4 linked regions of the Homo sapiens genome follow. The protein of the gene in region 1 interacts with the protein of each later gene in a pairwise test. Each region holds a gene or a part of one and is shown in the gene's direction. Other genes may lie near its edges. The genes, in order: ASPA, DUSP29, UBQLN3 and UBQLNL.

The links.
Region 2: the proteins of ASPA (region 1) and DUSP29 interact in binary tests that used the Homo sapiens proteins (3 or more experiments, as listed by UniProt).
Region 3: the proteins of ASPA (region 1) and UBQLN3 interact in binary tests that used the Homo sapiens proteins (3 or more experiments, as listed by UniProt).
Region 4: the proteins of ASPA (region 1) and UBQLNL interact in binary tests that used the Homo sapiens proteins (3 or more experiments, as listed by UniProt).

The regions. Positions count from the first base shown.
Region 1 is NC_000017.11:3,492,987-3,500,014, forward strand, and holds part of ASPA (aspartoacylase), read left to right. Parts: intron 1-1,363; coding exon 1,364-1,473; intron 1,474-5,904; coding exon 5,905-6,102; 3' UTR 6,103-7,028.
Region 2 is NC_000010.11:75,070,630-75,077,874, reverse strand, and holds the start of DUSP29 (dual specificity phosphatase 29), read left to right. Parts: upstream 1-4,232; 5' UTR 4,233-4,306; intron 4,307-4,641; exon of another isoform or gene 4,642-4,773; intron 4,774-7,245. UniProt on the Homo sapiens protein: Dual specificity phosphatase able to dephosphorylate phosphotyrosine, phosphoserine and phosphothreonine residues within the same substrate, with a preference for phosphotyrosine as a substrate. Involved in the modulation of intracellular signaling cascades.
Region 3 is NC_000011.10:5,506,930-5,513,875, reverse strand, and holds UBQLN3 (ubiquilin-3), read left to right. Parts: upstream 1-3,918; 5' UTR 3,919-4,002; intron 4,003-4,248; exon of another isoform or gene 4,249-4,281; 5' UTR 4,282-4,317; coding exon 4,318-6,285; 3' UTR 6,286-6,576; downstream 6,577-6,946.
Region 4 is NC_000011.10:5,513,893-5,520,804, reverse strand, and holds UBQLNL (ubiquilin-like protein), read left to right. Parts: upstream 1-4,105; 5' UTR 4,106-4,363; coding exon 4,364-5,791; 3' UTR 5,792-6,412; downstream 6,413-6,912.

The DNA.
Region 1 (7,028 bases):
GAAGTGATCACTGGGCATACCCATTCTAACTCTGCTCTAAAAGCAAAGGAAGGCTTTCCTTTGAGTTGTGACCATAACACGCTGTGGGCCCTACATTGGACCAAACGTTCATCCTGTTTGCTCAGAGATAGCCTGGTATATGCATAAACTACTCCTTTTCCAAGTTTCTGGGAATTGGGTTGAGGTTGCTGCATCTTTGGAAGTTGGTCTCCACCACTGGCAGGCTGCCTGCATCACAAGATCTCATTACTCAGGAGCTGTCCAAGTGTCTAATGTACTTAGTTAAGAAAAAGAGGCTGGGCATGGTGGCTCACGCCTGTAATCCCAGCACTTGGGGAGGCTGAGGCGGGCGGATCACAAGGTCAAGAAATCGAGACCATCCTGGCCAACATGGTGAGACCCCATCTCTACTAAAAATACAAAAATTAGCCGGGCGTGGTGGTGCATGCCCATAGTCCCAGCTACTCAGGAGGCTGAGGCAGGAGAATCGCTTGAACCCGGGAGGTGGAGGTTGCAGTGAGCCAAGACCACGCCACTGCACTCCAGCCTGGGTGAAAGAGCGAGGTTCCATCTCAAAAAAAAAAAAAAAAAAAAAAAGGAAAGAAAAAGAGCACGATACTGAAGTCACCTCAGTTGCTGGAACTCCTCCTGAAAATATGCAGTCATAAAACATCATAGCTGGAAGGGTCCTCCAAGATAAGCTAATCCAATACCTTCATTTGACAGGTCAAGAAAGCGAGCCTCAAGAAGTTAAGCATCTTGTTCAAGGCCGCATAGCCAGGGGATTAGAGCCCAGGTCTCCTGACCCCTAAACCTAGATTCTTTTTCTCTCAAACTGGCTTTTTCAGTTCTGTTTTCTACCTCTGGCCGTCGGCGTGTTTGTGGACAGAGTGCTGATAGGAATCATTCAAGGACATCTTTTGGCCTAGTGCTGTTTATGAACATCCTTAACTAAACGTTATCTGTTCTCCCCATAGCTGTCTTCATTTTGTTATTGTTGCTGTTGTTATTATTGTTTCTTCCTTACATTGTTAACTTCCCTTTTTCCAGATTTTTTTTTTTTTTTTGAGACAGAGTTTCACTCTTGTTGCCCAGGTTGGAGTGCAATGGCTTACTGCAACCTCCACCTCCCAGGTTCAAGAGATTCTCCTGCCTCAGCCTCCCAAGTAACTAGGATAATCCCAACCTGGGTATTTTTAGTGGAGATGGGGTTCACCATGTTGGCCAGGCTGTTCTCGAACTCCTGACCTCAGGTGATCCACCCAACTCGGCCTCCCAAAGTGCTGGGATGACAGGCATGAGCCACCACACCCGGCCCAGAGATGTTTTTAGTTGCCATTGATACATATTGTTTTTGTCATAGGAAAAGAATTTCCTCCCTGCGCCATTGAGGTCTATAAAATTATAGAGAAAGTTGATTACCCCCGGGATGAAAATGGAGAAATTGCTGCTATCATCCATCCTAATCTGCAGGTAACATTTGTTCTTTCTTTAAAATGTTGAAAATAATAATGCTGTACCTTTGAATAGAAGTTTATAGCTCATACAGCACTTCGCGTACATTCGCCCATTTGATGCTCTCATTAGACACTGAGTGTAGATAGGGAAGATGTTCGGACTGTCGCTCAATAAATACTTATTCAGTGTAACCTGTGCTGGCTGTGTGGACACACCAGTAAGTATGGCCTGCACGCTCAATGGAATTTATAGTGTAGGTACACAAAAGTCTAACTTTAGTCTAGAAATGAAGACAGCCAGATGAGATGACAGAATAATGAGATGGGAGAGGAGTGGTCAGACAAGGCCACTTAGAGAAAGTGAAACTCCTACCCACATTCAGCGGGTGGGAATTATGATGTCTATTTTAATATAAGGAAATACAGGGACGGAAGTTAGAACCTTCCCACAGCCATGTAGCTATCAATGACAGATCCAGAGTTAGTGCTCTTTCAAGTTGGCCGCATCACTTGCTACCTCCCTGTGACAGAATAAGTTAGAGAAAAACGACTGGAACCTCTTTCTTCTGCCACCATTCCCCAACTCTCCTCAGAACCCCCAGAATCTACTCCTTGCCTAGTTTTATCAATAATGACATAGTGAAGAAGGAAAAAAAAAAGGCTCTTGAGAGAATGTAGGAGGTTTAAATCCGGAAAAGGCAAAGGGAAAAGGAGAGAAGAACAGATTTCCAAAGCCAAAGTATCCATTCCCCAGTGCAAGTGGCCTGCACACTCCCAGACCTCAGAGATGGAAGAGAACTGGTGGATTATCTAGTCCAGGGCTTTCAACCCCGACTAACCTTTACCTAGAGAGCTTTTAAAAAACATCATAATAGCAATGGCAGGACTCCACTCTGAGATACTCTGATCTTTTTGGCTTGGATAATCAGGATTGAAAAACACTGATTGATCCAGTTCCTATCCCTGTTTAGTGACTCTAATAGTCATCCAGACTTGCAACTGAATGAAGTGGCCTGCCCAGTAATACAGACGAGTGAAGCAAATCCTGCTTTGTGGCTTAATGGGACCCAGGTGGAAACCTGAAGAAGCAGCCTTAGGCAGTGTTTGTTTTTGTTTTTGTTTTTGTTTTTGTTTTTGTTTTTTGAGATGGAGTCTCGCTCTGTCGCCCAGGCTGGAGTGCAGTGGTGCAATCTCAGCTCACTGCAAGCTCCACCTCCCGGGTTCAAGCAATTCTCCTGCCTCAGCCTCCCGAGTAGCTGGGATTACAGGCTCACGTCACCACACCCGGCTAACTTTTGTATTTTTAGTGGAGATGGGGTTTCACCATGTTGGCCAGGATGGTCTCAATCTCCTGACATCATGATCCACCTGCCTCGGCCTCCCAAAGTGGTGGGATTACAGGCATGAGCCACCTTGCCCAGCCTTAAGCAGTGTTTTAAAGGAAAGGTAAAGACTGGGGGAGAGAAAGGAAGAAAGCACTATTGGTGACAAAAATATCAAGTACAAGAAACAGAGGCCAAGGTGATGATATCATGGCAGGCTAAAACAGGATTTTTCAGGTTTTAGGATACTCTTGAGGAGTACAAAAATAATCCCAGGCAGACGGAGAAGTGAGATGAATGAGATCAGTAGCAAACTGGGCTAGTGGTAGGTCTCGAAAGTTAGGAAGGATGGTTTTGATTTGACAGACAATAATGAATGGCTCAGTATTCTACAGGAGGGATTGATTGGTTAATTCTGCCAACAAATATTTTTGAATGACAACTAAGCTCATTCTGGGCCTTGAGATTCAAGATAGGGAAGGTTCCTCATGGAGCTTCCATCCCAATGGGTGAGGAGAACTGACCATGAATAAGTAAACAATATGTAAACCAAATCATTTCAAACTGTAATAAGTGCTGTAAAAGAAATACACAAAATAATATAGCAGAGGGTATAACAAAGGGTTCCAATTAGACGGAGTGGTCACAAAGTGCCATCTCAGAGATGGTGGCACTGAAGTTGGAACCTAGAAGATGAGAAGCCAGCCATGTGGAAGGCAAGTGAGAGGCCCTGAGGCTGGAACAAACTTGGAGCATCTGAGGAACAGCAAGAAGACCCATATCCCTGGAGAGGAGGAGTGAGCAGAGGACGGTAGAGCCTGGAGAAAACACAGTTCAGGACCCGGTTATGAGTCTAGATTTTGTCCTAAGAATGACAGTTCTTACTAAGGGATGCTAACTGGAATCACGTAGGGGACCCCCTCCCAGTGCCTAGAACCCACCACAAACTACTAAAGTAGCGCTTCTCAAACTTGAGCCACATGACAATTATGGGGAGCTTTTTAAAAATGCTGATTCCTGGCCAGGAGCGGTGGCTCACGCCTGTAATCCCAGCGCTTTGGGAGGCCGAGGCGGGCGGATCACGCGGTCAGGAGATCGAGACCATCCTGGCTAACACGGTGAAACCCCATCTCTACCAAAAATACAAAAAATTAGCCGGGCATGGTGGCAGGCGCCTGTAATCCCAGCTACTCGGGAGCCTGAGGCAGGAAAATTGCTTGAACTCGGGAGGTGAAGGTTGCAGTGAGCTGAGATTGTGCCACTGCACTCCAGCCTGGACAGAGCTGAGATTACGTCTAAAAAGAAAAAGAAAAAATGCTGATTTCTGAGTCCTCTTCCCAGGGGCTCTGATCTAATTCATCAGGGTGTAGACAGGGAATCAATTGAGTTCACCAGGTGATTTTCATGTGGCTCAGGTCTGGATAGCACTGCACAATGTCGGAATCTCCACAGGTGGGGCTAGCCAGACGTGTGTTGAAGAGGTTCCTTTAGTGATTCTGGGGCAAGTCTCTGCCTGAAAAACCACCGGTTCAGAGAAATAGTTCTCAGCCGAGCCACCCTGTAAATCATCTGGGGCCTAAATACAATAAACACAGAAAACAGTGAACTATAAATGGGTAGCATGAGGGATTCGAGGAGGTGGCTGAAAGAAGCACGTATCCTGATGGCATGGTTGCGGGTTATATGACTCCATGCTCTGCAAGTCAGAACTCATAGAACTGCACACAAAAATGAGCGAATTTCACTGTAGGTAAATTTAAAAATAAAATATAAAAATAATGATGCCTAGGCCCTCCTCTCAGATTCTGATTTGATTTATCTGAAATGGGCCAGCCCCTCTACCTGTATATATGTATTTAACATCCCAAGCGATCATAATGTGCCACCAGGATGGAGAAAACTGCGGTGATGCGGCACTTCCCAAACACTAATGTCGTGCACGTGAACGTCAAGGACCTGTTAACATGAAGATTTTGATTTGGTAGGTCTGCTGCGCATAATGAAATCCTGCTTTTCTAACAGGCTCCTGGGTGATGCGGATGCTGCTGGGAAATGTTAGACATGCAGAATCCCAGGCCCCCACCCCCAACCTATAGAATCAGAATCTTCATCTTAACAAAATCCCCAGATGATTTACAAGCACCTCAAAGTTTGAGAAGAACTGTTCTGGGGTTCCCGTGGTGTGACAGCCATGGTGCTTGAGGGCTCAAAGGTCCAAATCCCTGGTGCGGGACCCTTCAGATAACTCAGTTGTTACCCTAATGTAGGAGCACATTTGGAATACACCCACCTTGTCCCAGACTCTCCCCAGCCCAGCACCACCTTCTCTCACCAATCCCCGTCAGAATAGAATCTCCTTGTATGCAGGTACAACATGGCTCATTTTTATATTTCCCAACGGTAGAATGTCTTGCACACAGAAGACTCCTAATGGATATTTCCTAAATTTTGCTGAACAGAATTTAACTTGAGCTGGCAACAGGCAGACTATGCACTTAGGTAGACATGCATTTAGTTTTGCCTTTTAATATTATAAATCTCTTTGGCTACATTCAAGGTAAACCTGGTATTGAAGCAAACTCTTTTTTATTTTTTTTTAGAGACAGGGTTTCATTCTGTCACCCAGGCTGGAGTGCAGTGGTGTGAACATAGCTCACTGTAGCCTCAACCTCTGGGGGCTTGAGCAATCCTCCCACCTCAGCCTCCTGAGTATCTGGGACTACAGGCATGCACCACCACACCCAGCTAATTTTTCGTATTTTTTCTAGAGATAGGATCTCTGTGTTGCCCAGGCTGGTTTTGAACTCCTAGGCTCAAGCGATCCACCCACATTGGCCTCCCCAAGTGCTGGGATTACAGGCAAGGAGCCACTGCACCTGGCTGAAGCAAATGTTAATTACACGTTTCAATTATACAAATGCAAAGGGGAACTCTTAAAACTACTGCCAAAATTCACGACCCAATGTCAGCGCAGTCAGATCACTTGCCTGCATCTCAATGCCTCGCTCAAGTATCTCTTTTAAAACAACAGAATACTGTAATTTGTTAGTTGTCTAGAGTCTGACATAAATTTTTAGAGGAGAAAAACCAAATATAATATATTTATTTTGATTGTTTCCTGAGAGGATCAAGACTGGAAACCACTGCATCCTGGGGATCCCATGTTTTTAACTCTTGATGGGAAGACGATCCCACTGGGCGGAGACTGTACCGTGTACCCCGTGTTTGTGAATGAGGCCGCATATTACGAAAAGAAAGAAGCTTTTGCAAAGACAACTAAACTAACGCTCAATGCAAAAAGTATTCGCTGCTGTTTACATTAGAAATCACTTCCAGCTTACATCTTACACGGTGTCTTACAAATTCTGCTAGTCTGTAAGCTCCTTAAGAGTAGGGTTGTGCCTTATTCAACTGCATACATAGCTCCTAGCACAGTGCCTTATTCGGTAGGCATCTAAGCACATTTCTTAAATTAATTAATATATCTTTAAAGATATCATATTTTATGTATGTAGCTTATTCAAAGAAGTGTTTCCTATTTCTATATAGTTTATTATACATGATACTTGGGTAGCTCAACATTCTTAATAAACAGCCTTTGTATTCAGAATATAAAATTGAAATAGATATATATAAAGTTATTTGTTTTATTGTGCTTTGCCTTACTACACTTCACGGATACTGTACTTGTACTTTTTTTCCAAATTGAAGGTTTTTGGCAACCCTGTGTCTAGAAAGTCTAACAGTGCCATGTTTCCAACAGCATGTGCTCACTCCTTGTCTCTGTGTCACCCTTTGATAATATTTCAAGCTTTTTTATGATTTATTTATTATATCTGCTATGGTGATCTGTGATCAGTGGCCTTTGATGTTACTGTTGTTAAGTGTTTTGGGGCACCATGAATCGTGCCCATGTGAGACTGCGAACTTAGTGAATGTTGTGTGAGTTCTAACTGCTCTACTGACCGGCCATTTCCTTGTCTCTCTCCCTGTCCTCTGGCCTCCCTGTTCCTTGAGACACAATAATTAATAAGTCTACAGCAGACTCTGTGTGTTCAAGTGAAAGAAAGGGTCATACTTCTAGAAATTAAGCTTAGTAAGGAAGGCATGTCAAAAGCTGAGACAGGCTGAAAGCTAGGCCTCTTGCACTGGTTAGCCAAGTTGTGAATTCAAAGAAAAGGATCTTGAAGAAAATTAAAAATTCTACTCCAGTGCACACACACAAATGATAAGAAAGCAAAACAACCTT
Region 2 (7,245 bases), on another chromosome or scaffold:
CTTATCTGTACAAAAAAATTTTAAAATTAGCTGGGCGTGGTGGTGCACGGATGTGGTCCCAGCTACTTGGGAGGCTGAGGTGGGGGGATCGATTGAACCAGGGAGGTCGAGGCTGCAGTGAGTTATGATCACACAACTGCACTCCAGCCTGGGTGATACAATGACACCCTATCTCAACAAATATAAATAAATAAATAAAATATTATAAAAATGAAACTATTTACAAGTCTAGTAGCCAATGTAAAGAACTGTCATTATGTGTTACGCTCATTACATCTAGACCTACATATATATGCTTTAAAGAACACTATGGGGCCGGGTGAAGTGGTTCACGCCTGTAATCCCAGCACTTTGGGAGGCCGAGGCAGGTGGATCACCTGAGGTCAGAAGTTCGAGACCAGCTTGGCCAATATGGTGAAACCCCGTCTCTACTAGCTGGACATGGTGGCGGGTGCTTGTAATCCCAGCTATTTGGGAGGCTGAGGCAGGAGAATCACTTGAACCCGGGAGGCAGAGGTTGCAGTGAGCCAAGATTGTGCCATTGCACTCCAGCCTGGGCAACAGGAGCAAAACTCTGTCTCAAACAAACAAACAAAAAACCACTATGAACTGTGTAATATACGAAAATATTTCTCAGCTATTGCAACTGTCAGAATACCATGCTAATTCTGGAGTGCCCCCAGAACTGTGAGGTGAAACACAGACATCAGGACGCTCAGCGCTACCAGGTCCTTTATACTATCTGAGTAGATATACTTGACAAATAGAATAAGCCCCCTTTCTTCACCGGGAAGCCCTTCCATAGCTCAAATCCTCCTAGTACTCCAAAGCAGTGTCCACCTCCAAGGTCAGTGGCAGCACAGCCCACCAACCTTCATTTAATTCATATTTAGTTACCTTTGATTTTGAGAACACAGAGCAAGAGAAAGGGAAAAGCATTCTCTGTGGCCTGTGGATGGTTTTAATTACAAAAATGGGTAGAGTTACAGTCACACTTTGCCACTGCTGAAAGCCAGATCCCAAGAGAACAAAGCACCTACATATTCTTCTTCTTTTTTTTTTTTTTGAGACGGAGTCTCGCTCTGTCTCCTAGGCTGCAGTGTAGTGGCACAATCTCGGCTCACTGCAACCTCACTGCAACTTCTGCCTCCCGGGTTCAAGCAATTCTCTTGCCTCAGCCTCCCAAATAGCTTGGATTACAAGCACCCGCCACCAAGCCACCTGGGTGAGCTTGTTGGATGAGAATGGGGGCACCCTAGGCTTAGTCTGCCTGGGAGGTTGAGACTAAGAGGGAGTTGAGCTGCTCTGCATGACAATAGGAGGACTCTCGAGCCTGTTGAGGCACTCGGCTCTAGAGAGGAGGGGAGAGATGACGAATGAAGAAAAAGGAAGGCTGTGACAATCGCATGTACAGAGAGGAGCCTCATGAACACAGCAGGACACAGAAAGTCCTTGGAGATGGGGCCTAGCCAATAATTTTCAAAGAATGGGGAGGTTAAACCTTGAATGTGGACTTGTCTCCTGCTCTGTGCTGCAATCCCTCTGCCCCACACAATCCCTTGGGTGAGTGATGGAGGAATAATAGAAGATGGTGGTGTCAAGCTCAGAATGAGGTTGTAGGAGTGATAGGCCAGAGAGTGCCAGCAAGGGTGGAGAGGCCACAGCAGAATTGACTTTGGAGAAATGAGAGCCATCCTACTATTCTTTTCCCAGGGATAAACAGTCCTCTGAGATGTTGGAGAGGGCTTTGGACTTCCTGCAGAACATAGGCCTCAGTTTCTCTTGCTTTGCTTTGCTTTTTAATGTGAAGGAAAAGAGAGCCGTCTGGGAGAGCTGCAGACTTACAGCCCTTGGATCCGGCCTCTGGGTGGGCAGGGAGGCCTCTCCCCTGGGCTGCAGCTGGACTCAGCCTCCATGCATATTCAGGTATCCACAGGGCACTAAAAGCCTCTGGATCTTCTGGACCCAGAAAAGTTTGGGTCCAGGACGGCAAACTTCATATGTTAGTTTCCCCTGTTGGCCGCTGGTTTTGAACTCTTGACATCAAGTGATCTGCCCGCCTCGGCCTCCCAAAGTGCTGGGATTACAGGTGTGAGCCACTGCGCCCAGCCAGTAACAGTTGTTTCTACAGGATTATACTTGACCTGCATGAATGGAGCTTGCTTTTTCACAGAATCCTAGGAAATCTCCTTGGAGTTGGGAACAATTGGACACATCTCTCAGTCCAACTGATGCTTACCTGGCTCGCTCCCATCTTGATGGGATGGTGTGTTTCCTTCATCTACATGAGGCAGCTCTTGGGGTGTCTCCCAAGGTCCAGGTTCTGCCCTTAGTGTTGTGCAGAGAATGTTGGTGTTTCCCCTTAGCTCCTCGAAGACAGACCAGGTATCCTCTACCACCACCACCACTCTTTTCTAAGAAAACCTTCCCAGGGCTTCCTTCAGTTCCCCATAGTAAATGATGGTTGTTTTTTTTTTAACCCTTCTCTATCCTTGTCACCCTCTTTTGGGCCTATTTTAATGTGTGAAGGATTAGAGGAGGGGCCATCAGTCTTCTGGTTAACCACATGTAGGGTCTACTTTACTGGAGGTGATAATCCAACAACCCACCAAATTCTCCTCTTGACTTCCTGTAAATTAAGTCATTGAACGTTTCCTAGATGGTGTGAAATACTCTCTCTCTCCCTCTCTCAGTCATCTAGCTAGCTCAGATGTCTTTAGATATGTTATGTTTGCTCCCTGCTGAAGCTGCATCTTCAGAGCTCCCTTTTGCTTCCTCAGCCCTTGACTGGGGCTGGGGCTGCCCCCCAGGCTTTCAGCTAAGGAGAAATCTTTCTTCTCTATCTTTGGCAATTCCAGCATCTCTGACTCCCTTAGTTCTTGGGGTAAGTGCAGAAGGGCCTTTCGACCTTGCTGTTTTGACTCCAGCACTTGACAGCAGGGACATTTGGACTCTGACATTCTGACTTCATTGTACACTCAGATTCTGTGTATTTGCCTTGGGAATTTTCCTCACACCAAGAAATCAATAAAAGCTAAGTCACTTAGCAATGAATAGTACTAGTAGAAATAATTGCTATAAATTAAACTGGCAGTAGCTAATGTAGCAAATTGTGAGGAAGATCTTTGGTTGGGTGAATAAAGTTTCAGAGGACAATATAATGACCCCAATGCAAGAAGATTGTGTTAAGTGAAAGATGTGGGAGCCTGGTGCTTCCTTCCCTACTTCTCCCAGTCCTTCACACACTAAAGCATGCCCCAGAGAGGATGACAAGGATGGATACGAATGGAGAACCACGTCATTCATTATAAGGAACTGTAGCAAGCCCTGGGAAGATTTTACTAGAAAATTAGAGGAGACTGGGCAGGATTTTGCCCGTAAGTATTAAAAAGCGGGGCTACATTGGTAGGGCTTGGTGGGAGGGATCCCAGAGCAAAGAACTCTGGAGCCATTGAGGAGGAAGGTTGACAGAAGAAAGGGCCAAGAAGAGAGACCTGGGAACGACTGTTAATGACTGTTAACGTTAAATATATATATATATATATATATATATATATTTTTTTTTTTTTTTTTTTTTTTTTTTTTTGAGACAGGGTCTTGCTTTGTCACCCAGGCTGGAGTGCAGTGGCACAATCTTGGCTCACTGGAGACTGTTAAATATTCTAATACCACCAAATTCTTTATCTCATTCAGTCCTCATAGCAATGTAAGAGGAGGATATTATGATCATTATCCCCACTGAAGCCCAGCATGGTTGGGTGCTTGCTGGGGTCTCACTGGAAGCCACACAGCACAAACTCTGCCCAGAGTTTCATTGATTACCCTGTGTGATGTGGCATCCATTCCATTGGCCTCCCAGAGATAGCTCCACAAACTCTCAGAAAAGACTGGAATAGAGAGCTGTGCCAGTGGGCAAACCTCCCCTGTTCTAGCTGTTCTGGGACAGGGCTCAGGGCAGGGCCTGTAGACACCTGGCTTCGTCCATCCCAGGAAAACAAAGTTGGAAAATTCCTGTCTGTCCCTGCCCTGGTGGCCACATGTCCTGCCTCTGTGGCTGGGCCGGGGACAAGCGTGTAGGCTTCAGGTACAGGGCTTCCTAAGTCAAGGGTTTCAGGTCGCACTGGAAAATCATTTTGCAAGCAGATGTCATAGGTCTCCTCTTAGACTGGACGGCACGCAAGGTCAGCGTCAGCAGATCTGACCCTAAAAATAGGCCTCTGTTGCCAGTGGGGGTGGCTGGGCGTGCGGCTGCTACATGCCCCACGGACCAGAACCTCCCGACGCGGCCAGGCCCCGGCACACCCAGGTAAGGCCGCTGGGTGGGGAGGCCGGCACCCCTTGGGTTCACCCACGTGTTCTTTGGGGGCCTGGGTGTGGGGATTAGAAGCCCCTTTTCCACCCTGTTCCTGGTGCTGTGGGGAATAGCCGACCTCCTTCTAGTGTGAAAGGTTTCTTGCTGTCCTTTTACGAGAGACACCATGGAATTTTCTCCATTTCCCTTTCTCCAAATCTGAACTTCCAGTTCAACGACCATTTCTAAAGGATAATGGGGTGGATTAAAGCTCATCGAGCCCTTGTGAAGCATTGGATGTATTGTATCATATTCCACATTCCAACGAGGTTCTACGTTTGTCCATTTAGCCAGTAAAGGGGGAGAAATCTCGGGGGCGAGAGAGAGAGAGGCCCTGGAGTGACTCGGATCCTGTGTAGGGCAGCATCAAAGACAAGAAAGTACTTAAAGCTCCAGGGATGAGAATTCTCCCTGTGTCCCAGGTAACACAAAAGCGTCATTTGGACAGAGTGGCGGGTTTGGGAGCATTTCTCAGTCCTGGTGGGAGGATGGGGTTGGGGATGACGCTGCCGTGGTAGAGATGGGGGGTGGGACTGGGTCATGAAGGATCAGAGCCACTGGACCAAGAGTGTAGGCTGTACCGCGTGTGGGCAGGAGGCGGGATGGGCCTGTGTCTCAGACCTGTGTGGGCAGGAAGTGGGACGGGCCTGCGTCTCAGACCAGGGCTCTCCCATTAGACCCTGGTGCCCTTGTGCTGTGACCCCAGGGGTCCCTTCATGGGCCTGGAACCCAAGAACAGTTGGGCCCGGGGGCTCTGATCGTTCGGGAAAGCGGAAAATGCTCCAGCGAACAGGAGGAAGGGCACGAGGAGGATGTCTGGAGAGGTTGCCACACTCACGGCCGCCAGCACCTGAGGGTCCCTGGCCCTGGATGTTTTTTCCGCTGCCCCCACCTTTAGCTTGTGATCCCTCCTTGTTCTCATCATGAGAATATCATTTGGTCCCACCGACAAATCCGAGGACTCTGACATTAATAAACAACACTTGAAGGGCTTCTGAGCTGAGTTCTTAACAAGGAAGGCGCGTTGGGCATGGAGGCTGGGGTGGACATGGGGTGGGTCTGAGGAGAGTTAGTGGGAGTGAAACAGGAAAGGTTCCTTTGTCCCTCTCACAGGGCATGCGACGGGGGTGTGGCTCGCTTGTTCAGTACCCAGCTGCTCAGACCTCTAGAGGAGCATACAGACGGGCAGGCTGTGGGGCTCTGACCCCATGGCAGTGTCTAGGGGTGAATGTTTACAGCTGAAGCCCCAGTGGGTGTGTGTTACAGGGTGCTCTTTTAGTTTGCTGTCTATAGGCGGCTTGTGTTAACTGGCTCAATTAGACCTCCTTCCTTATCACAAGGACAGAGGGATTTCTGTATCCTGGGGTTTCTTGCCTTGGTGTAGGGGAAGAATCAGATCACATGTGGGCTTGGAGAAGAGTGCAAGGTTTTATTGAGTAGAAGTAGCTCTCAGCAGATGGGGGAGCCAGAAGGGAGACAGTTTTTCCCTGGAGTTGGGCCACTCAGCAGCCGACTCTTCTCCTCCAACCGCTCTGGCCAAACTCCGCATCATTCCGCTTGTCAATGGCCTGCAGGCCTGCCAGTGCCTGTCGGCGTGATCTTCTGCCGGCGCGCTTTTGACAACCAGCCGCTTGTGTCTTCTGCCTATGTGTTCCTCAGTACGTCCAGCCGGTTGTGTGTCTCAGGTTTTTATAGGCACAGGATTGGGGTGTGGCGGGCCAGGGTGGTCTTGGAAAATATAACATTTGGGTGCGAAGGCAGGAGTGCCTGTCCTCACCTGGGTCTGTGGAGGTGGAGCCCTGGCCAGGGACCTGCCTTTCTCTACCCAGCACTTCCTGGCCCTCCTCCGGTATCAGGATCTCACTTGGCTCTGAAGGATCTTCATGGGCAAAGGCAGATCTGCGCTGAGGGTGAGGAGAGAGCCAGTGGTCCTCTGCCATCAGACAAACTGGAGCCCTTACTGGGGACATTTCAGTCATGGCTGACACCTGGGTTGGGTGGGAACCTGGTCCTGTCTGCGGGTGGCACTCCCGTGGCTGTTGTTGACCCCACAGTAGATGAGGGGCTTAGGGGAGGCCCTGAGGCCAGGGGCTGGGCTGTGAGCATCTTCCAGCAGCCCCAGGGAGGCCCAGTTGAGTCCACCAGGGTGGGGGTGAGCAGCCTCCACCAAGCCTTCCCCAGACACTGCGGCCCCGAGGCCTGGCGGTGTTTCCTGTGCTATGTGTCTGGCACTGTTCCAAGAGCTTTCCTGACAAGCAGGAATCATTTATTCCTCAGAATTGCAGCAGCTTAATGAGGGATGGACAGCACAGCCCCATTTCAGATTGGACACGGAGACACAAATACTAAGTGTTCTGCCCAAGGTCATGCAGCCTAAACAGGGGCAGAGGCCAGAACCCAGCGTGCCTCAGAGTTTCGGGGTGTAGCCCCTTTGCTCTGGTGCCTCTCATTGGGGTAGAGGCCTGGTGGCATCTCACTCTCCTACTCCTCTCAACCCCTAAACTCCAACCAGGGCCCCTGTCTCAGGGAGGCCCGGCCTGGAAACAGCCACTCCAGGTTCCTGGGCCAGGAGTTAGCTGTTTGTCCTCTTCGGCCTGATTTCAGAGCAGATGGTGTTTTAATCTCCTCTTCTGGTGACCATTCACGTTTCTGGGCCTACCCGTTCCACAGTAACGAGGGGGTCAGATCTCCTAGCAGCCTGACACAGCGACCAGAGGCTGACTAGCTGGGGAGAGTCCTTTCTCCTACTCTCTTGCATGTCACGCAGGAGGCGATGGGTCCTGTCACCCACAGGACAATGCTCAGGCTCACATGAGTCCATCTCCTCCGCCACAGCTTCCCTACCAAGACCTCCGCCCCGGCCAAACTGCTCCACCCACTCTTTCCTATTCTCG
Region 3 (6,946 bases), on another chromosome or scaffold:
TTCACATATTAACCAAGTCCGGATGAATAGTTATCATCATTGGAACCTCCTGCTCGTTGATTTTGCCACCATTATAAGATGGTGATGGGCTGTCTCTACTGTCTCTTTAGCACACAGAGATGCAGCTGCTGCCATCTCCACTGTATATCCCAGTCACCACAAATCCAGCCCTCCATGGGGCACAGCACCTTCCAAGAATATCACCTCCTTCAGTATATCTATCTTATGTTTGTAGTTTACATTTTCCATGGTTGCCAATGCCCCACCTTTTTCTCTTTCTGCCTCACCTAGAGTATCCCACCATGGCAGGATATGCAATTATTTGTGTTTTAATGATTCCATGATTAAATAATTTAAAACACTTTTACCATAATAATTCAATGTTGTTTTAGGCATTGAAAAAAATAGCAGTGAAAAAAACAAAGATCCTTTATTTATTGACTTTACTTTCTTTTGTGGAGATACAAGTTATGTTAAGTGGTAAGTGCTGTGAAGAAAAATGAATCAGAATAAGATATTCTACATAGGGTGATGAGGGAAGGCCTCTCTGAAAAGGTGACATTTGAGCAGAAGTCAGAAGTAACTACGAGAACTGAACATGCAATTCACTGGGAGAAGGAAGATCCAGGGGCTGTCTGAAAGTAAAAGGCCCAAGGTAGCAGTATTCCTGCTATGTTTTAAGAATAACAAGGAGGTGATGTAGCTGAAATGGACAAAAAGGAGCGGGGAATGGGGAGGAAGTCAGAGAGATTGTGAAAAGTTTTATAGGTCTGGTGAAAACTTTGGATTTTACTGTGAATGTAATAGTCACTGGTGAGTTTTGAGCAAATAAATCAAATAATTCAATTTATCAGTCTGGCTTCAGAGTGGAGAATGGACTGTGGTAGAGGAAAACCAGGGAAGCAGGGAAACCAGTTAGGAGGCTTTTATGATAGAGCAGTTGAGAAACAGTAGTTTCTTGCAGTAGGGTGGGAGCAGGGGAGGTGTTGAGGAGTAGATTCTGGACTCTAAAGGGGACCCATCCACAGAGATTTGTGTGCTCAACAGACCACCCCTTCTGAGCCCCAACATGGCCATCGGTAAGAGTGAAGGGCGGGCCTACAAACTTCCAAGTGTTTCTAGAAAGCTCACTGCCAAAGACCCCTACTTCATGTCTACACCTACCAAAAAGATAAGTCTCAATAAATAAATTACAGTGAAAATGGATTTTTTACCTCCCCATTTAATATGATTAAGCTTCATACCCTCTTTGCTACAGCTTGCATAAAAAGCTCAGGCTATCCAGGTCATCTTTTTTATTTTCATCACAATATGCTCTGAAAATTCCTCACTTGACTCATTTTTCTACTCGTCACCAGTTTTCCAGCCTCTTCATCCTACCATTTAGAAGTCATAATTTAGCAATAGAAAAGCCCACATATCTACAACCTTCTTCCTAAGGATGACTACACCTTTTTGCTATAATGGAGATCTGAATGTCTAGTGAAGACACTGCTTCTCCAGCAGTGGCTACATCTGTGTTTCCCTTGGACTTGGAAGTGGATAGATGTCACTCTTGCACCATCTTGCTGCTTCTCAGCCCAGTTTTCTGGCTCCAAGATTATTTCATGATGCATGAAGATAATAATTGTGGCATAATACTTGCCTAGTTAACTTATCATGGTGATACTCAACTCTTCACCTAGTCTCTGTTTAGGCAAAAAACGGCATACAGCTGTGCTGACTAGTTTCATTTAAACTTATTACCAAAAGATTTAATTACCGTCTTAGTAATTCTAACTGCATTTTCCCAGTCCAGTGATTCTCACCAGAATCTGCACCAGGATCACCTGGAGGGCGTGTTAAAACACAGATTTCTGCCCGACATTCCAAGGGTGTTAGATTCAGTAGGTCTACCGTTGGGTTAAAATCTCTAATTTCTAATAAGTTTCCAGGTGATGCTAATGCTGTCAGTTTGGAGATCATACCTGGAAATCCACTATCCTAGTTAATTCACTACCTTATTGTTAGTCCAAACTGCACCATTTTGTAAACTTCCCACTATTTTGCAGACCTTGGTCAAAGTGAAACATTTCACGGGGGTTCAGGCTGTGAGAAACATCCTGCCTAACCACCTGACCACAAGGCAGACAAAGGTCCAACTAAAGCAACATCCCTATCATATCTTGCTGCGCAAAGGTCCATTGAACACCACGATGACATCCTACAGAAACAAGGACCAAACTGCCTCATCATGAGCACATCTTATCAATATCCTGCCAGGCAGCAAGCCATACTGCCCAGACCCCTCCCTCCCATACCTATAAATTACCCCAGCCTGTAAGCAGTGGTGGGCTCTGGCATTAGGCTGGTCCCACACTTCTCTAGGTTTTATGCTAGACATAAACCCTGCATTTGCTGTGTGTGTGTCTTTCTTTAAGCCTTGCCTTCCTTTCAAAACCTAACACTTATTCTTTCAGATGATCAATTCATATCTTGTTTTCTCTTCTCAGATCTTCAATATCCATTTCTTATTCTAAATCTTAAAGTTGTGCTTATTTCAACAAGAAAGACAGTAATAATCAGAAGGGACTTCTACCTGTGTCTACCATGAAATCAACCAACTAGCTTACAACTGTCCCAATACACTCTGCCTCCCATTCATTCTGCTATCATGAATAAACTTCATATTCCTAAATCAAGCTCTCCACATAGGCACTTGCTCCCAATCTCTCTAACTTATCTATTCAAGAACTTAATAGTTTTCCCTTTCTCATGCATCAATTTTTTCTACTCACTGGATTGTTTCTATCAGAATATAAACATCATTACACTATTCTTAAGAAAAAAATCTAAAAAGCCTTTAACCCCACATCCCCACATAGCCGTCATCCCCTTTCTTGCATTTAAAATGCCCTAACTGGATCTACTTTTTCCCAAACCATTTGCTTTTAAACACACTCTGATTAGGCTTCCTGCCTCTACTATCCTTCCAAAGCTAGTCTCATCATGGTCTCCAATTCTTTATTTTTTCAAATCCAGTGGCCAATTCTCAATCCTCATCCTCCTGACCTAGCAGCATCATTTCACATGATTGGTTACTCTCTCCTTTTTGAAACTCTTCTTCCTTTGGCCTTTCTCTTTTCTCTCTCTTTTTTTCTACCTTACTCTTTTATTTTTTCTCCGTTTCCTTTGCCAAATTCTTCTGATCTTCCAGATTTCTAAATGTTATACAGCCACAAAACTCAGATTTTAAAATCTCTATCATTTTGCCTGTATGCACTAACTAGCTAATCTAAACCAGTCCATGATGTTAAGTACCCTTTGAATGCTAATAAACTCTGGACTTATAATATTAAACTACAATACTACATCTCCATTTGTATGTAAAATAGACATCTCAAATGTATGTAAAACTGTTTAACAACCTGCTAATTTAGACAAAGTGCTTATTCCCAATCTTTGTCTTAGTAAATATTCAATCCTTTGAGTTCCTTTGGGGATAACAATTTCTTTTAAAGTAAAAAAAAAGTTATCTCATGCTTGACTCCTCCCTTATACCCCAAATCCTATCCATCAGCGAATCAATACTTTGAAAATACGTAAAGAATTCATGGTTAATGTTGAATAAGACAGAAAACTGGGACATAGGATACCAGGAAGAAGACCCTGGACCAGGAAGTAGCTGAATGTGGGTCTGAATGGAGACAGAGAGGACTGAGAGATGTTTTATAACATTCCAATCCCAGTCTGAGCCTCCACAGAAGTCTCCACAGGAAGGCACTTGAGGTGGAGGAAGTAGAAGTGGTAAAAGATGGGAGAGCAAGAGTTCCCAGGGATCCCGAGCTCCTTAGAGAAGTCTCAAGAATCTTCTCTGTGTGAGGCTGTGACGTCAGCACTGAGGTCACAGAAGGGACCTGATAGTGCGGGTTCTGGCCCAGAAGGCCTCAGGGGTGGCTGTGTAGCAAGATGAGGGAGGTTTGGAGCCCTGCATAAAGAGAAGGACGGGACCACAGCTGACTGGTATGTACACCCCAGCTGGGCCCTTCCTTCTACCTTTGTCCCTGTATTCATCAACTACAGACCTCTTTCCCAGGGCCCTGCATTTCCCTCCCCTGATTCCAACATATCTCAATCCCGCAATCTTCCTAAAGCATCCTGCCCCAGAAACCTCATGGCCCCTTTCATGTAGACCCTGCAGATTTCCCTATCCTGATATTCAAGACCCTTTTCATACTCACCCTTCCTACTTTTGCCATTGCCTGAAAGGATGATCTTGGTCTCCAATCCCCATGCCCCTAGCTGTGTCCCCACAGATCTGGGCCTCCTGCTGCCACCATGGCCAAAGGTGGAGAAGCCCTGCCACAGGGCAGCCCAGCACCAGTCCAGGATCCCCACCTCATCAAGGTGACAGTGAAGACGCCCAAAGACAAGGAGGATTTCTCAGTTACAGACACATGCACTATCCAGCAGCTGAAGGAAGAGATATCTCAGCGCTTTAAGGCCCACCCCGATCAGCTTGTTCTAATCTTTGCTGGCAAAATCCTCAAGGATCCTGACTCACTGGCACAGTGTGGAGTGCGAGATGGCCTCACTGTCCACCTGGTCATCAAGAGGCAGCACCGTGCCATGGGCAATGAGTGCCCAGCTGCCTCTGTCCCTACCCAGGGCCCAAGTCCTGGATCACTCCCTCAGCCAAGCTCCATTTACCCAGCAGATGGGCCCCCTGCCTTTAGCTTAGGTCTCCTCACAGGCCTCAGTAGGCTGGGCTTGGCCTATCGTGGCTTCCCTGACCAGCCAAGCTCCCTGATGCGGCAGCATGTGTCTGTGCCTGAGTTTGTGACTCAGCTCATTGATGACCCCTTCATCCCGGGTCTGCTGTCCAACACAGGCCTAGTACGCCAGCTGGTTCTTGACAACCCCCATATGCAGCAGCTGATCCAGCACAACCCTGAGATTGGGCATATTCTTAACAACCCGGAAATTATGCGGCAGACACTGGAGTTTTTACGTAACCCTGCCATGATGCAGGAGATGATACGTAGCCAGGACCGGGTGCTCAGTAACTTGGAGAGCATTCCTGGTGGCTACAATGTGCTTTGCACTATGTACACAGATATTATGGACCCAATGCTTAACGCAGTCCAGGAGCAGTTTGGCGGCAATCCCTTTGCCACTGCCACTACTGATAATGCCACCACCACCACCAGCCAACCTTCAAGGATGGAGAATTGTGACCCTCTCCCCAACCCCTGGACTTCCACACATGGAGGCTCAGGTAGCAGGCAAGGAAGGCAGGATGGGGATCAGGATGCACCTGACATTAGAAATAGGTTTCCAAACTTTCTGGGTATTATAAGGCTCTATGACTATCTCCAGCAATTACACGAGAACCCCCAGTCCCTAGGAACTTATCTACAGGGGACTGCATCTGCCCTCAGCCAAAGCCAGGAACCACCACCATCAGTAAACAGAGTTCCCCCATCGTCACCCTCATCTCAGGAGCCTGGGTCAGGCCAGCCTCTCCCCGAGGAGTCAGTAGCAATCAAGGGAAGGTCCTCCTGCCCAGCTTTCCTGAGATACCCCACAGAGAACAGTACTGGACAAGGTGGAGACCAAGATGGTGCAGGGAAAAGCTCTACTGGACATAGCACAAACTTGCCTGATCTTGTCTCGGGGCTGGGAGATTCTGCCAACAGGGTTCCATTTGCTCCCTTATCTTTTTCCCCCACGGCAGCCATTCCTGGAATCCCTGAGCCTCCCTGGCTGCCATCCCCGGCTTATCCAAGATCTCTGAGGCCAGATGGCATGAATCCAGCTCCACAGTTACAGGATGAGATACAACCACAGCTGCCACTGCTGATGCACCTTCAGGCAGCCATGGCAAACCCCCGTGCCCTGCAAGCCCTGCGGCAGATTGAGCAGGGTCTACAGGTCCTAGCTACTGAAGCACCTCGCCTCCTACTCTGGTTCATGCCTTGCCTAGCAGGGACGGGTAGTGTGGCAGGAGGTATAGAGTCTAGAGAAGATCCCCTTATGTCTGAGGATCCTCTCCCAAATCCACCTCCTGAGGTGTTCCCAGCACTGGACTCTGCAGAGCTGGGCTTCCTTTCCCCTCCCTTTCTCCATATGCTGCAAGATTTAGTTAGTACAAATCCCCAGCAGCTGCAGCCTGAGGCTCACTTTCAGGTGCAGCTGGAGCAACTGCGGTCCATGGGCTTTCTGAATCGTGAAGCCAATCTTCAGGCCCTCATTGCTACGGGGGGCGACGTGGATGCTGCTGTGGAGAAGCTGAGACAGTCGTAGGAGCCTTATTCATTCAAACCATACGTTTTCCTCTGTGCCTTTTTCCCATATCCTAGTTCCCTAGCTCTCCCATTTTTGAATACAGCTGCATTATAAACCAAATTTACTATGAAGTCCTTTGCTGTGGAGGCAATGTTGTTCCAGAGTCAACGAGGAAGACTAATGGCCAAAACATAGTGGAGGTGCTGTGTGTGAGTCAACCACTTGTACCACTATACCACTGGGGGGCCCCAGTCTAAGCTCTGCTTATGCCTATCTTGAGATGCAATTACACCCAATTTCCAATGTGAACTCTTGCCTGAGTCTCATTCATGTGGGCTATGAGAAAAAGGATGGATATGGGAGAAGAAGTAGTGATAAGGGCTGTCTCTACATGGATGGAAGGACTTGGAGGGAAACTAAAAGGTCTGAAGTTAGAAGACTCACAGGTATGAAGAACAGAGGAGGAAATGTTGCTGCAACCTTTTGAAGGTCGAGGCCTGCAACTTTCCCAGTGTTCTTTCAGCGTTTCTTCAGATTTTGTGTCCTGTAGTAGCTGCTACCAGGTGCTCTGGTTTTCCGAGCTCCCTACCACTAGCCTGACTGAAAAGTGGTTATAGTTTCTTATTTTTATCTCCCCTGAAGACTATCCCCCAAGCAGCTTGCACTTCCAGGATTTGAT
Region 4 (6,912 bases), on another chromosome or scaffold:
CCCAATCCAGCCTCTTCCCTTTACTGGGTTGCTCCTCTACGTACAGATGGCAGGTGAGCCCTGAGTGACTTCTGTTCTGCAATCGGATTAATTCCAAATGTCCCCTACCCATACCCAAACAGGGTTCTTTACAGCCCCACGCTGGTTTCTTCTATTTTAAGTATGCCCCAAAGCAAACCTAGCCTAGGCCTGACAGGTCACCTCCTAACGCTCTTCTCATGAGACAAGCGTGACCCAGACTGCCCTGAGTTTCCTTCACAAATCCACTGCCTACAAATTTTAATCCCATAGTAACTCAAAGATGGTTCTACTTCTACTCTGATTCTATGTAAAGAACAAACTCTTCTACACCTGGGCCTCAAAATTCTAACTTCCTGCTTAGAAGTTCAGAGCATGTCTCTGGCCAAGCTTGAGACTTGGAATTAAGCCAATCTGTGTTTGAAACTCTATACTGCCATTTAAGCTAAGTGACCTTGGGAAAATGAATTAACATCTCAGAACCTTTCTTAGCCATATGTAAAATGAGGATAATTATACATATTTGAGAAGATCACATAAGATTACATAGAAAAGTATGTAAAACATAGGTGATGATATGTATTTATTAGATGAAAGAATGGCTAAAAGAGTCAATAAATAGACGAATAAGACCTTCAATACATTGTCAACCTTGCTAGGGAGGTAGGCCCAACACACAGAATGTTAAAAGCCAGTGTGTGTGAAAATGTGATATAGACCTGTTGCGAGAGAGAGACATGAATCTAGGTTGAACCAGTCATTGAAGAGCTCCAGTTGAAGCTCAACTCAGAAAGATCAGTGTTACTGAAAATTAGTATTACTGAAAATAATATTCCCAAAATTCTATGCTTATCTAAAATGTATTGTATAGGCCACAATTTGTAGCATATAACTCATATGTGCTATACTTTGTAGCCTATAAAATACATTTACACGCCTTGGAACCCTCTCAAAATCTATAGGTAATCAGGACTTACAGAACAATGTTAAGAGATAAGATTACTCATAACTCAGAGATAATTTAAGGAACTTTCCAATGTGACCTCATGAGAACAAATCTCCCTGAATCCAGCTCCAGAAATATGTCCTGTTACAGGACCCTTGCATCTTGAGGACAGGTGGAAGGCAGTGCAGAGTAGATACAGAAGAATCTCCATAAGGAAGAAAAAATAATAGCTACCATTTTTTATTGCTTATTGAAACAAATGCTGTACTAATTGTTTTCTTTGCTTTATTTTGGACAGTCCTAACAGTCAATAAAGTAGCTTGTTACTTTTGTTTACAGTTTTTACTTATAAGCTGTGTGACCTCGAGCAAATGACTCAACCTTTCTAAGACTTAGTCTCTTCATCTGTAAGGATAAAACCTACCTTACAGTGCTGTTATTATAATTAAATAAGATTGTGCATATATAGTGTCTAATAGGCACTGTAGCTATTGGTGTTTTATTATTACTGTTACTTTTAAAAATAATTGTTTAGTTTGTCATGGTTGAGTAAGTGAAAGATGAACTAAAGTCAATTGTTTGATAGCAAAGCCCCTGCTCTTAATTAGCAAACTGATCTGCCTATTTTTGTAGCTCTTTGTTACCTTAGTTATGGCTGTCACCCAATAATTCTGAATGCAGGGACTTGGCCTAGGTACTTTGACTACTATCGGCTGTGCAAATCCTATAATGACCTCGCACTGCTGAAAAACTATGAAGAGAGGAAGATGGGCTATGGTGATGGCAGTGGAAACGTTGTGTACAAGAACTTTATGTACTTTAACTACTGTGGCACAAGTGACATGGCCAAAATGGACCTTTCCTCCAACACACTGGTGCTGTGGCGTCTGCTGCCTGGTGCCACCTATAACAACCGCTTTTCCTATGCTGGTGTGCCCTGGAAGGACTTAGATTTTGCTGGTGATGAGAAGGGGCTGTGGGTTCTCTATGCCACTGAGGAGAGCAAGGGCAACCTGGTTGTGAGTCGTCTCAACGCTAGCACCCTAGAAGTGGAGAAAACCTGGCGTACCAGCCAGTACAAGCCAGCCCTGTCAGGGGCCTTCATGGCCTGTGGGGTGCTCTATGCCTTACACTCACTGAACACCCACCAAGAGGAGATCTTCTATGCTTTTGACACCACCACCGGGCAGGAGCGCCGCCTCAGCATCCTGTTGGACAAGATGCTGGAAAAGCTGCAGGGCATCAACTACTGCCCCTCAGACCACAAGCCGTATGTCTTCAGTGATGGTTACCTGATAAATTATGACCTCACCTTCCTGACAATGAAGACCAGGCTACCAAGACCACCCACCAGGAGGCCCTCTGGGGCTCATGCTCCACCAAAACCTGTCAAACCTAACGAGGCTTCCAGACCCTGAGACCCCAGGGCTAGGCAGAGCATTGGTAGAAGTGTGCCCTCTTCCTTACCTCCAGGAGGACCACATCCCAAAGTGGCCATTGGTCCTAATGATTGGAAGACTGATTATATCTAGTGAGTTCTTTATGTAATTAATATCTCAATCAGTACATTAAGGTTCCCTTTAATAATGGTCTAGGTGGATTTGATAGGGAAAAAGTAAAATATTAGCTAAGAAAATGGTACCCTCTCTTTCTGATGCTTTGGCATCTCATATTCCTTTTTTCATAAATCCAGCTCCCGGAACTCAAGAGTTCTGTGATCTAGAATTGTCAATCTCAGGTTGGGAACACCTGATTCCAGTGCAGAAGCTGCAGGGCAGCTGGTCATTAGAGTAGGATATGAAAGTTCCCTTTCTTATCTCCACCTTCCTGTGAGGTCCCTGGGGAGAAAAGGGGCAAGATCTTGGTCTGGTAATCAATTTTTCATTGTCCTGGATCGATCTCACTTTTGAGTGCAATTGCAAGAGAATAGGCCTGAGTCTTGCTGTAGTAAGTTAGCAACTGGCCTTATAGCATGATGAGGATCTGACATGGATGGTGCTGGGGGTCTAGATATTCTCAATAAAGAATCATTGGTTTGATAGCAGAAGGTCTCCTGGCCAACGGCCTATCATCCCTTTGCTTGTCTTCAACACACTGGGAACATATGGGCTCGAGCTTTTTGCTTGTTCCTTAGCTATCTGTGTGGTGCTCCTCCCTCTCCAGGCAGGTGGATGGAATATATAAAATCCAGACCCTGAAGGCTTCCTAGTAACACAGAATATGCATACAATTTCATATATACATTCGATAAGACATGTACACTCTCACTCATATAAATAATTATTTCCATCTGCATCTAAATAAAAACCAAACACAATTCTCCAAATTTACATGGGACCAAGAATCCAGCTTTTTAGTTGCCTGTATTTGTCCCCTTAAGAATTTTACTACTAACCACCTCCTCTCCCACCTCTTGATTTACAGACGACATTCCCCCTTAATGCTTTGACATAAAGGTGGGCACACAAGAGTGGGTTAGGACATTGAAACAAATCATTCTAAAACTTCTGTTATATTGACATGTAGAAGAGACCAAGTGATATGTGAATAAAAGGCATATTATAAAAAAGAGCTAATTCACATTTAGTTTGGCATGTGCCTATGAAGAGCCTTCCTGGTTAGCCCTACTCCTGCTTCCTAGGACAGAGGAAAATTTTCCCCACCACATGGGAGCACAATTAAATATAGAATCCCAAAATCTAGACTCTATATAAGACCCAAATTTCCAGATCATTAAAAAAATTAATGCGCTCCTTCCTATGGGAGAGACTGCATTCTTATAGGAATGTGGCTTTATCTATGGCTTCAGTAGACCCAACTTTTCATACAAGTCTAACATCCCTATAAGGAACATACACACAGTATCACACGGAAACACACATCCCACATTTAAAAATATGGTTTTTATTTACTTTTTTGTTTTCTTACTAGTTCCATCCAGAGAACTTTGTCCCTGTTTTCTGGAAAATTATTTTATTTTATTGTAGAGCCCTGGACCCCTAAATATGTCCTCCTTCCCCAGCTGGCCCAGGGTGACTGCGAGGATAGAGTTGACATCACAATATCCCTTTTCTGAGGATTCATGCCCCTGGTGGGTGGGGTAGGAGGAGGGGTAGCCCTAGGAGAAGTCATCACCACTTTGTCCACCATGGGTGAATTATGAATCAGTAGCTATGCCAGGCCTCAGCTGGGCCACATCTGGAGAACTGGGGTGAGGGCACAACATCACAAAATATCTGGCCCCAGTCTGGTCACTCATCCCTTTTAGGGCAACAAGGAAACTATCCTGTGGCCTGAGAGCACAATACCTGAGACAAAGGCCAGCAGAAACATTTGTCTGCCCTCACCCTTTCTGCCCCAGCTTCCACCTGCTCCCCATCTGCCCACCCACTAAAGCCCATGTGGCATGCCATCTCTCGAACATCCAGGATGTCCCAGAGTGGATGTCCATCAGGTCTGCTGGCAGACAAAAATATCTCTTCAAGTGCCACTCGAGTGATAGTGAAGACTGCAGGCAACCAGAAAGACTTTATGGTAGCTGATGACATCTCGGTAAGGCAGTTCAAGGAGATGCTATTGGCTCACTTCCAATGCCAGATGGACCAACTAGTGCTGGTCTTCATGGGTTGCCTTCTCAAAGACCATGACACACTGAGCCAGAGGGGCATCATGGATGGCCACACCATCTACTTGGTCATCAAGTCCAAGCAGGGCTCCAGATCTCTAGCCCATTCCTTCCGGGACCTGCCAACGAATGATCCCTGCCACCGGGACAGAAACACCAAAGGAAACAGCAGCAGAGTGCACCAACCAACTGGTATGAATCAAGCTCCAGTGGAACTGGCCCACTTTGTGGGGTCTGATGCACCCAAAGTGCATACCCAAAACTTGGAAGTGAGCCACCCAGAGTGCAAAGCACAGATGCTGGAGAATCCTAGCATCCAGCGGCTTCTGTCCAACATGGAGTTCATGTGGCAGTTCATTTCAGAACATCTAGACACGCAACAATTGATGCAGCAGAACCCAGAAGTTTCCCGCCTTCTTCTTGATAATTCTGAGATCCTATTGCAGACTCTGGAGCTGGCCAGGAACCTTGCTATGATCCAAGAGATAATGCAGATCCAACAACCTTCACAAAACCTTGAGTATCCACTGAACCCACAGCCATATCTGGGCTTAGAGACAATGCCAGGTGGGAATAATGCCCTGGGTCAGAACTATGCTGATATCAATGATCAAATGCTGAACAGCATGCAAGATCCTTTTGGAGGAAACCCTTTCACAGCTCTCCTGGCAGGACAAGTGCTAGAACAAGTCCAGTCTTCACCCCCACCTCCACCACCATCACAGGAACAACAAGACCAGCTCACACAGCATCCTGCAACCCGAGTCATCTATAATAGCTCTGGTGGTTTCTCTTCAAACACCTCAGCCAATGACACCCTTAACAAGGTCAACCACACTTCCAAAGCCAACACTGCTATGATTTCCACCAAGGGCCAGAGCCATATCTGTGCCACTCGGCAGCCAGCTTGGATACCAGCCTTACCTAGCATAGAGCTTACCCAGCAGCTTCAAGAAGAATACAAGGATGCCACTGTTTCTCTAAGTAGCTCCAGACAGACATTAAAGGGTGATCTCCAGCTGTCAGATGAGCAGAGCAGCTCCCAGATCACAGGAGGCATGATGCAGTTGCTTATGAACAACCCCTACCTGGCAGCTCAGATTATGTTGTTCACAAGTATGCCCCAGCTGAGTGAACAGTGGAGGCAGCAGCTGCCCACATTCCTGCAGCAGACACAGATTTCTGATCTGCTTAGTGCTTAGGCAACCCTAAAGCATTCCAAGCAATATTGCAGATTGAGCAGGCCCTCCAGCTGCTGGCCACAGAGGCTCCTGTTCTTCTGCCTTGGGTTGCACCCTACCTATGGGGCCTGGGTTGGCTTCCTGCCCCCAGCTGCAGCTATCCTGACACAGTGCCCTGTTCCTGGAATGTTTCAGATACAGCTGAGCCCAAGGGACCTGAGTGCTGCCACAAGCCTGGAACAGTCCTGCAGAGGCTACAATCCCCGGATGGGGACCCTTCCCACCCTCTGCAAGCTCCTGAGATTTGTTTTAGCAAACAGATGGATTCTCTCCAGGCCATGGGATTTGGGAACCACCATGCCAATCTACAGGCACTCATTGCTACTGAAGGGGACACCAATGCTGCTATCCGCAAGCTCAAGAGATCCCAGAGATTCTAACCACCATGCCTACTTGTTTGCTTGCTACCTGCCTGCTGACCCACCTGACCATCTCATTTGCCTTTTGCACCTTTCCTGATGCTTCCAGCCAGGAGAAGTCCTGGAATAAGAGTTATCAACCAATGTGTCTTGTACTGAATAATAGATCATTGGTCGTGGCTGAAACATCTGTCAATAAAATGGCTACACTCACTTGCTGCGATCTGAGGTTTGGCTTTACTTCTTTTGCAAAAAAAAAAAGAAAAAACTAGCTGTGTGAGATTTTTGTCTCACCTACTATATGTACATTAACACACAAACCACATGCATATATTAATATAGAGATAAAAATAATGTTTTTATCTCTAAAACATGAGCATTTTGAGCATGGTATATGAAACTTGAGCATGGTATATGAAACTGATTATTTTGAGCATGTCACCTTGGACAGGTGTGTGTATGTACACAAGCTCACATAGTAAAAAATTCACATATACAGGCATATAGAGTCCACATATGAGTACACACAGCCATGTGCAAACACAGATGCAAATACCTAGAGACACATAAATAGACCCATATGTAGGGAAAACAATCATAACATGCTCAAACAGAAAGGGAAACATTTTACATAGATAGGCCCAGATATTTAGTCATAAAGACTGCCTGAATTTCTCAAACCCAAATTGTTCAAGTTTGAAAGTGGAACAGGAATAATATGAG